Homo sapiens: one gene and its partner. The protein of the gene in region 1 purifies or fractionates together with the protein of each later gene. This does not show direct contact. Each region holds a gene or a part of one and is shown in the gene's direction. Other genes may lie near its edges.

Evidence for each region.
Region 2: the proteins of PARP4 (region 1) and TEP1 purify together in Homo sapiens (affinity purification with western blotting, with the first as the bait; one study listed by BioGRID). This does not show direct contact.

Annotation. Positions count from the first base shown.
Region 1 is NC_000013.11:24,509,825-24,514,397, reverse strand, and holds the start of PARP4 (protein mono-ADP-ribosyltransferase PARP4), read left to right. Parts: upstream 1-1,619; 5' UTR 1,620-1,692; exon of another isoform or gene 1,693-1,875; intron 1,876-4,573. UniProt on the Homo sapiens protein: Mono-ADP-ribosyltransferase that mediates mono-ADP-ribosylation of target proteins.
Region 2 is NC_000014.9:20,378,912-20,382,721, reverse strand, and holds part of TEP1 (telomerase protein component 1), read left to right. Parts: intron 1-6; coding exon 7-99; intron 100-365; coding exon 366-498; intron 499-658; coding exon 659-809; intron 810-1,035; coding exon 1,036-1,169; intron 1,170-1,320; coding exon 1,321-1,409; intron 1,410-1,676; coding exon 1,677-1,791; intron 1,792-2,246; coding exon 2,247-2,487; intron 2,488-2,668; coding exon 2,669-2,792; intron 2,793-3,616; coding exon 3,617-3,741; intron 3,742-3,810. UniProt on the Homo sapiens protein: Component of the telomerase ribonucleoprotein complex that is essential for the replication of chromosome termini. Also a component of the ribonucleoprotein vaults particle, a multi-subunit structure involved in nucleo-cytoplasmic transport.

The DNA of each region.
Region 1 (4,573 bases):
TCCCCAGTGTCTATTGTTGCCATCTTTATATCCATGAGTACCCAGTGTTTAGCTCCCACTTACAAATTAGAACATGTGGTATTTGGTTTTCTGTTCCTTCATTAATTCACTTACGACAATGGCCTCCAGTTGCAGTCACGTTGCTGTGAAGGACATGATTCCATTCATTCTTTTTATGGCTTCGTAGTATTCCATGGTGCAAATGTACCACATTTTCTTTATCCAGTCCATTGTCGATGAGCACCTAAGTTCATTCCATGTCTTTCCTATTGTGAAGCGTGCTGTGACGAACATACTAGTGCATGTGTCTTTTTGGTAGAATGAGTTCTCTTGTTTTGAATATGTACCCAGTAATGGGATAGCTGGGTTGAATAGCAGTTCTGTTTTCAGCACTTTGAGAAATCTTCAAACTGGTTTCCACAGTGGTTCAACTAATTTACATTCCCACTGACAGTGTATAAGCATTTCCTTTTCAATAAAGCCTTGCCAGCATCTGTTGTTCCTTGACTTTTTAATAATAACCATTCTGACTGGTGTAAGATGGTATCTCATTGCAGTTTTAATTTGCACTTTTCTGATAATTAGTTATGCTGGGCTTTTTTTCATGCTTGTTGACCATTTGCACATCTTCTATTGCATATTCTCTATTTATTGAGACTTTGTTCTCCTGGTTGTTTCTTTCAGTTATTTTTCTATGTTTCCTTTCACTTTTTGTCCATGTTTAAGACAGTTTATTTGAAGTATTTGTCTAATAATTCCTATGTCTGTGCTTCCTCAGCTCAGGGACAATTTCTGTTCATTTCTTTTTTCCTTTGAATTGGCCATTTTTTCGCCTTTTTTTTTGCATGCCTCATAATTTTTTGTTGAAGATTGGACATTTTGAGCATTACGATGTGGTAACTCTAGGAATCAGTCTCTCTCCTCCCCCAGAATCTCTTGTTGTTTCTTAGACAACCCTATAGAGTAGGTTGTAATGATGAAACTTGGTAAATTACCTTGTCCCCAGCCCCCTTGGTAATAAATTGTGGAGTCAGGATTCAACCCCATACCCTTTCCACTGTATTCTCTACTCTATCCTTTCTATTCTCATTTTATTCAGTATCCTAAAAATCTGAATCTTCCCCATTGCTTTATTCCCATTTCAGTGAATCTCAGATCTGTATCTCCAGCCCCCTGCCTCTCTTGAATGGCAGATAAATATATTTCCAACTAGTTACACTGTCACGAATTTCAAACGCAGGAAGGCTTAAAGTAAATTTATTATCTCACTCTCCTGTTTCCACGAACTTTCCCGAAATTTTCTTCTTTCCCGGCCTTGTGAATCCCTTCCATTTCTCAGTTAAAGGACAGCACCATCCACCCACCTCTCTCAAAGCCGAGCTTTGTATTAATCCTCATTGACAAAATCCCTCCTGAAATATGAAACTGAAAGCCCTGAACCCTCCGGCTGATCTTGGAAGAGAAACCCCGCCAGAGGCCGGGGACCCGCTCCCCACCTGGCGGACCCGATTCCGGGCGCGTTCCGGCTATCGTCCCTGCTTGGGACGCTGCGCCCGCCTGGTGCGGGGCGGGGTTCCGGCGCAGTGGCGCCCGCCCAGCCCCGGGGGCAGGGAGAGCCTAGATTACGGAAGTACCGCGAGCAAGGAGCGCGGAATCGGGGAGCGTCCGGAGCTAGCTGGATCCTCTAGGCAGGTGCGTGGGCGCTGCGGGGTGGGGGGCTGCAAAGGTCCCTGTAGTCCTAGCCAGGAAGTGGCCCGCGTACTACTTTCCCGCCAGTGGCTGCACCCTTGCCCTGCGCGGCGTTGGCGCTGTGGGCCTGACGGCGCTGCTAGGCTCGGGAGTGGACTAGCTAGTGCAGCCAGCGCCCTCGGGGAGGGATATTGCGGTCGTTCCGCTCTGCCCCGCGGCGCAGCCCTGGTGACGAGAAACCGGGTGCGGTGGGGGGCGCCCACCGGAGCCGACAGTCACACCAAGTCTCCGCACCCCGTGCGGTGCGGTTCGCAGTAGCACGCGTTGTTTCTTGTTTCCAGTATGCCAAACGGCCTTCTTTCCTAAAGTTAGGTTTCGAATTGTGCAAAAAGTAAGGTGGTTTGGTGAGTAATCAGGAAGTACTATCTGACCTCGTGAGTCATTGGGAACACCGTGATAGAAACAATGTGTTTGTTGAGGTCCAAAGTTGAAAACCTCTAACTCAGTTAAGTAATTCCTGCTAGGAGGGCCGAATGGTTCACCCAGGGATCGAGTTGGTAGATCACAGGTTCTAGAAAACTAAGGCGCTGCTAAATATTCAAGCCCAAGCACTTTCAATTCTGGACTGCTGGATGACAACAATTATATGACAATATCCAAGCATAGTGCTATGATAAAGGGGAAGTTCGCTCTGAGATGTGCGTGTTGCAGACTCATTACATCTGACTTTATCATTTATTAAGTAAACATTAGGTCTTGTTTGTGTGCGTAGAGCTACTGTATATCATGTAGGAGTGAAATAAAAGTAGTACCTTTGTTGTTTAAGGGTTTAATAAACCCATTAGGGAGGTGCATTACTGATGCCATTTGAGTCCAAAATGCAAATAGTGTCAGAAGGCTTTTCTGTAATCCTGGGCTTTAATGGATACGTGAGAGTTTTTAGTAAGCAAGCTTTTATTGAATGCCCACTGTATATCAAAAGTGATCTTAGCGTGTGCTGACTCACACACTTCGGAAGGCGGAGGCTGTAGAATCAAGACTGCCCAGAAAGGGACTCCTCAGGGTTTTCCGAGAGGAGGAAATGCCAGTGGTAAAGACGAAGACCTGTGAAGCAGGAAGCCACTTGATTCCACCTACACCAATGGTTTATGGAGCAGCCAAGAGTTTGTGAGGAGGCGCGCTGAGGGTTTCTTAGGAATCGGGGCTGTTCCCTGCTGTCTTTGGGTGGAAGACACTCTGTGAATGTTATTTGGGGAAGAAGCTGGGAAGGGGGACAGGCTGGAGTGACTGTGCAGATTTGCCTTAGAGAATAACCAGCCCCTAGCCCAGTGTCCGCCACATCTCATATGTACGTAATCAGCGCTGATGAAAACATGAACTAACTCTGTGTTTAGAGAACACTTTGAAACAAGGAAGAACTAGTGGCGCATGTCGGTTAGGCGCTGTTAACCCAGAAGAGGGCTGGCATTTTACAGAGACTAGAGATGAATCTGTGGAAAGAGAGAAGTCAAGACCTGACTTGAGATTTCACGAAACCCAAAGTGCGCCTTTCCATACCTCCCACGCAGCCGCAGGTGCTAAGAACAGACCGCAGATTTATGTTTAAAATGTTTTTACTCTGGGCCGGGCGTGGCAGCTCACACCTGTAACCCCAGCACTCTGGGAGGCTGAGGCAGGAGGATGGCTTGAGCCCAGGAGTTTGTGACCAGCCTTGGCAACATAGTAAGAACCCTGTCTCTACCAAAATTAGCTGGGCATGGTGGTGCAGGCCTGTGGTCCCAGCTACTAAGTAGGCCGGGTGAAAGGATTGCTGGGAGGGAGGTCGAGGTTGCAGTGAGCTGTGACAGTGACCACACCACTGCACTCCAGCTTGGGAGACAGAGCCAGACCCTGTCTCAAATAAAATAAAATGTTTATACTTTGATTTCACAACTATGTGTATGTACTTAATGCCACTGAACTGTACACACAGTTTTAAAAACTGTACCACAATTTTTAAAAGGCTAAAAAATGTTTATACTCCTTGATTCAGTAATTCCATTTCTGGCCATCAACTCTAGGGAAACTATGACAGAGATGTGGCAAAAAAATATATGTACAAGCATTTTAATTAAAGTGTATTTCTAATAGTGAACACTTTTTTTTTTTTTTTTTTGAGACGGAGTCTCGCTCTGTCGCCCAGGCTGGAGTGCAGTGGCGGGATCTCCGCTCACTGCAAGCTCCGCCTCCCGGGTTCACGCCATTCCCCTGCCTCAGCCTCCCAAGTAGCTGGGACTACAGGCACCCGCCACTACGCCCGGCTAATTTTTTGTATTTTTAGTAGAGACGGGGTTTCACCGTTTTAGCCGGGATGGCCTCGATCTCCTGACCTCGTGATCCGCCCGCCTCGGCCTCCCAAAATGCTGGGATTACAGGTGTGAGCCACCGCGCCCGGCCAATAGTGAACACTTTTAAGTAACCAAGTATCTGATGACTTGGGGAAGGATGAAATAAACGCAAAGCTTATGTAACCACTAAAAACACCTTCAAAGAATATTTAGTGACATGGGGAGGATATCACTAAAAGCTAAATAAGCTGTGAAAGTGAAAGTCCTATTTAAAAAGTAAAGAGCAACTGGCTATAACATTAAATATAGAATATTAATAATTTAGAAAATACAATGATACAAGAAATAATAACACCAAAAAAATTAAAATATCAACAGTGGGGGCTAGGTGTGGTGGCTCATGCCTGTAATCCTAGCACTTTGGGAGGCAGAGGTGGGCAGATCACTTGAGCTCAGGAATTCGAGACCAGCCTGGCCAACATGGTGAAACCCCGTCTCTACTAAAAATACAAAAATTAGCTGGGCGTGGTGGTGCGTGCCTGTAGTCCCAGCTACTT
Region 2 (3,810 bases), on another chromosome or scaffold:
TGCCAGATGCGACTGCTGCTGGTGAAGCGGGAATCAGGCCGGCCGCTCTACCTGCGCTTGGTCACCGATCACCTGAGGCTCTTCACGCTGTATGAGCAGGTCAGTTCTCATCACCTTCCAAGTCCTAATCACTACTTCCCATTCTCTCTTCAGCTGCTTTGTCTCATCCCTATCCCACGTCCTTTGCTGTCTTGTGATCACCCACTCCCTATCCTCGCCTCATACCTCGCCTCACTTCCCTCCTACTGTTGTTCTTTACTTTTTCATTCCTCCACACTGTCCTCCTGCTGCCCCTTCCCTATCCCACAAGCCAAGCTGCTTCTCCTCCCACTGCACTGAACAAGGCTGTCCTCCCGCCATCCTAGGTGTCTGAGAGACTCCGGACCCTGCCTGCCACTGTCCCCCTGCTGCTGCAGCACATCCTGAGCACACTGGAGAAGGAGCACGGGCCTGATGTCCTTCCCCAGGCCTTGACTGCCCTAGAAGTCACACGGAGTGGTCAGTGCTTGGGGTGGGTTGGTTGGGAGGCTGAGGGCCAGGGTTCGGATTACATTGGTTCCCTTGGGGTCTCAGCAGGCAGTTCAAGGAGAGACTGGGTGTGGTGGGGGCGGGGACACCGTATGGTTAGATGAGGGCCTCAGAGAGCTTGAGTTTTCAGGTTTGACTGTGGACCAGCTGCACGGAGTGCTGAGTGTGTGGCGGACACTACCGAAGGGGACTAAGAGCTGGGAAGAAGCAGTGGCTGCTGGTAACAGTGGAGACCCCTACCCCATGGGCCCGTTTGCCTGCCTCGTCCAGAGTCTGCGCAGGTACAGGTGCCCCAGCAGAGCTCCCGCTGACCTCTCTGTGCCTTCCCTTCTTTGAGCCGGGGCCCTCTGTATAGCTTCAACAACTGGCTCCCAGACCATGAATGAGCTACTGCTCCAGCTGCTCCAGTTTCCGCTATTTGAGGGGGGAATAGGAGCCCACTGTGTGCCAGGAAGCTCACTGACAGGCCTCTTCCTTCTTCTCTCTCCCTTCCTCACACGAGGACAGTTTGCTAGGGGAGGGCCCTCTGGAGCGCCCTGGTGCCCGGCTGTGCCTCCCTGATGGGCCCCTGAGAACAGCAGCTAAACGTTGCTATGGGAAGAGGCCAGGGCTAGAGGACACGGCACACATCCTCATTGCAGGTGATTGCAGCCCAAGTCAGCCTGGGCACTGAGTGTGGGGCTTGGGCCTGGAGGCCAGGACCACCCACTGTGCTCCCATCTGCTGGCCAGCTCACCTACTGCCCTTGGGAATGATGCAGGGCTGAGCCTTTCTCAATATCTGTTCATGCAGCTCAGCTCTGGAAGACATGTGACGCTGATGCCTCAGGCACCTTCCGAAGTTGCCCTCCTGAGGCTCTGGGAGACCTGCCTTACCACCTGGTTAGTTCCTAGACCCCATAGACACCTTTCCCAAAGTGAGTGCTTTGGTTGCTCTGAGACCCCTCTCCCCGTTACCATCTCCACCATCACCGCCGCCATTACCCCTCCCAAACTCCCTTGACCTCTTTCCTTTCAGTTTTCCTGCCCTTCTTCTTCAAGTCCTTTGTCCCAGCTCAGATCCTATCTCTGTATCCAGGTTCTGAGACTAAACTGTCCCTTCTCACCAGCCCCTTCATATCCCTAATGAATTCAATCTGACCTTCTCAGCTCCAGAGCGGGAACCGTGGACTTCTTTCGAAGTTCCTTACCAACCTCCATGTGGTGGCTGCACACTTGGAATTGGGTCTGGTCTCTCGGCTCTTGGAGGCCCATGCCCTCTATGGTGAGATGAGTCACTGGCTGGGTTCTTCTCTGAGATATGGGACTCCTGGGTGTGCTTATGGGGGCCCTGCTCAGGGTTGGGGCAGGGGTGTGGGTGTCAGGGAAAAAAGATTCAAATTTCCATTTCGAGTTGAAAATGCCAAGAGGGTGAGCACGTGACTCTCAGGAGACCTTTCACCTTGATCTCTTGGACCAGAGATTCTTCAACTTTATTTAGTTAGCATAAAACTATCTAGGAAACTTGTTCAAATTGCAGATCCTTGGGTCTCCATATTCTGGTTTCCTAGGTTTGGAGTGGGGCTCAAAGCTTTGTACTTTTAAGAGATATTCCTGATATAGGGCCAGAGGGCCACACTTTGAGACTTACTATTGTAGACACACCATATGGTTTTATTTGGTGCTGGGGCTAATGGGGTCCAGCTGGCTCCCCAGTGACATTCTGCCACCCTTTTATAGCTTCTTCAGTCCCCAAAGAGGAACAAAAGCTCCCCGAGGCTGACGTTGCAGTGTTTCGCACCTTCCTGAGGCAGCAGGCTTCAATCCTCAGCCAGTACCCCCGGCTCCTGCCCCAGCAGGCAGCCAACCAGCCCCTGGACTCACCTCTTTGCCACCAAGCCTCGCTGCTCTCCCGGAGATGGCACCTCCAACACACACTACGATGGCTTAATAAACCCCGGACCATGAAAAATCAGCAAAGGTAAGACCTTGACCCCAGACCCTAGTAAGCCCACCAGAGAGCAAGCTGCAGCTCTTTCTGAAACTGAGGAATAAGGATGACCAGAAACACTGGAGAGGGATCCAGGCACAGAAGCACATAAATCAACTCCTGTTTGCATTCTCTCGTTTATTTCCTCCCTTTCTTCCTACTCTTTCTCTAGCTCCAGCCTGTCTCTGGCAGTTTCCTCATCCCCTACTGCTGTGGCCTTCTCCACCAATGGGCAAAGAGCAGCTGTGGGCACTGCCAATGGGACAGTTTACCTGTTGGACCTGAGAACTTGGCAGGTATGACAATCAAGGAGGGGCAGAATTTACCCTCTGAAAATCCATGCAGACTGCCCTGAAGCCCTAGATGAGCCAAACACACCTGTTATCACTCTGATTAATTCAGCAACTTTACTGCCTGCACATCAGCTCAAAGGGCTTGGCCAAAAAATCAATCACACAGCAAATATTTGCTGCACACCTTCCATTTAAGGCACTGTGCTAAGCGTTGCAAGAAACACAGGATTTGGGACATTGTCATTGCCCACCAAGTGGTCAGTTTTGTTGGGAGATAAGACATACGAGGTAAAAAAGGAACCAAAACATAGCCATGTAATCTAATTAAGACATGAGTGAGTTGTGCAGCTATAGGAGGACATAGGATAGAGAAGGGCAGGCACTCTTGTTTGAACAAGGAACCTGAGCAAAGACACAGGAGGGGAATGTTCCTGGTAAATTTGTAAATTGCTGGGAATTATGGCAGCACAGCGTGCTTATGGGAGGCTAATAGTACATTAGGCTGGAGAGGTGAGTCCTAGAACCACAGCCTCTTTCTATCCTCTTTACACTCATGTCATCCCCTACCCCATGTAACCCCATTTTCTCAGACCCATCAAAATTTTCTGTAACTTGGGGAATAGGTATGGGGTTTGGAGTAGGGGAGAAAATGTGGCCCCACTTGGATCACGAGGCCCCCACTTGAACGTGTGCTTGACTTGGAACATAGAGAGCCAAGGACTCATGGCCTTTGTGCCTTGGCCTTCTTTTTGGGTGGGGCCTGGAGTGGTGGGACTTGGAGGGTCAAGGGGATGGCCTGAGCTGCGCTCCCTCACCCACTGTCGCAGGAGGAGAAGTCTGTGGTGAGTGGCTGTGATGGAATCTCTGCTTGTTTGTTCCTCTCCGATGATACACTCTTTCTTACTGCCTTCGACGGGCTCCTGGAGCTCTGGGACCTGCAGCATGGTTGTCGGTAAGGGGTCCTCCCCATTTGTCTTGGAATGAGGGCCTTCCCCATTTTTTGGAAGCCCCAGGAGAAGGA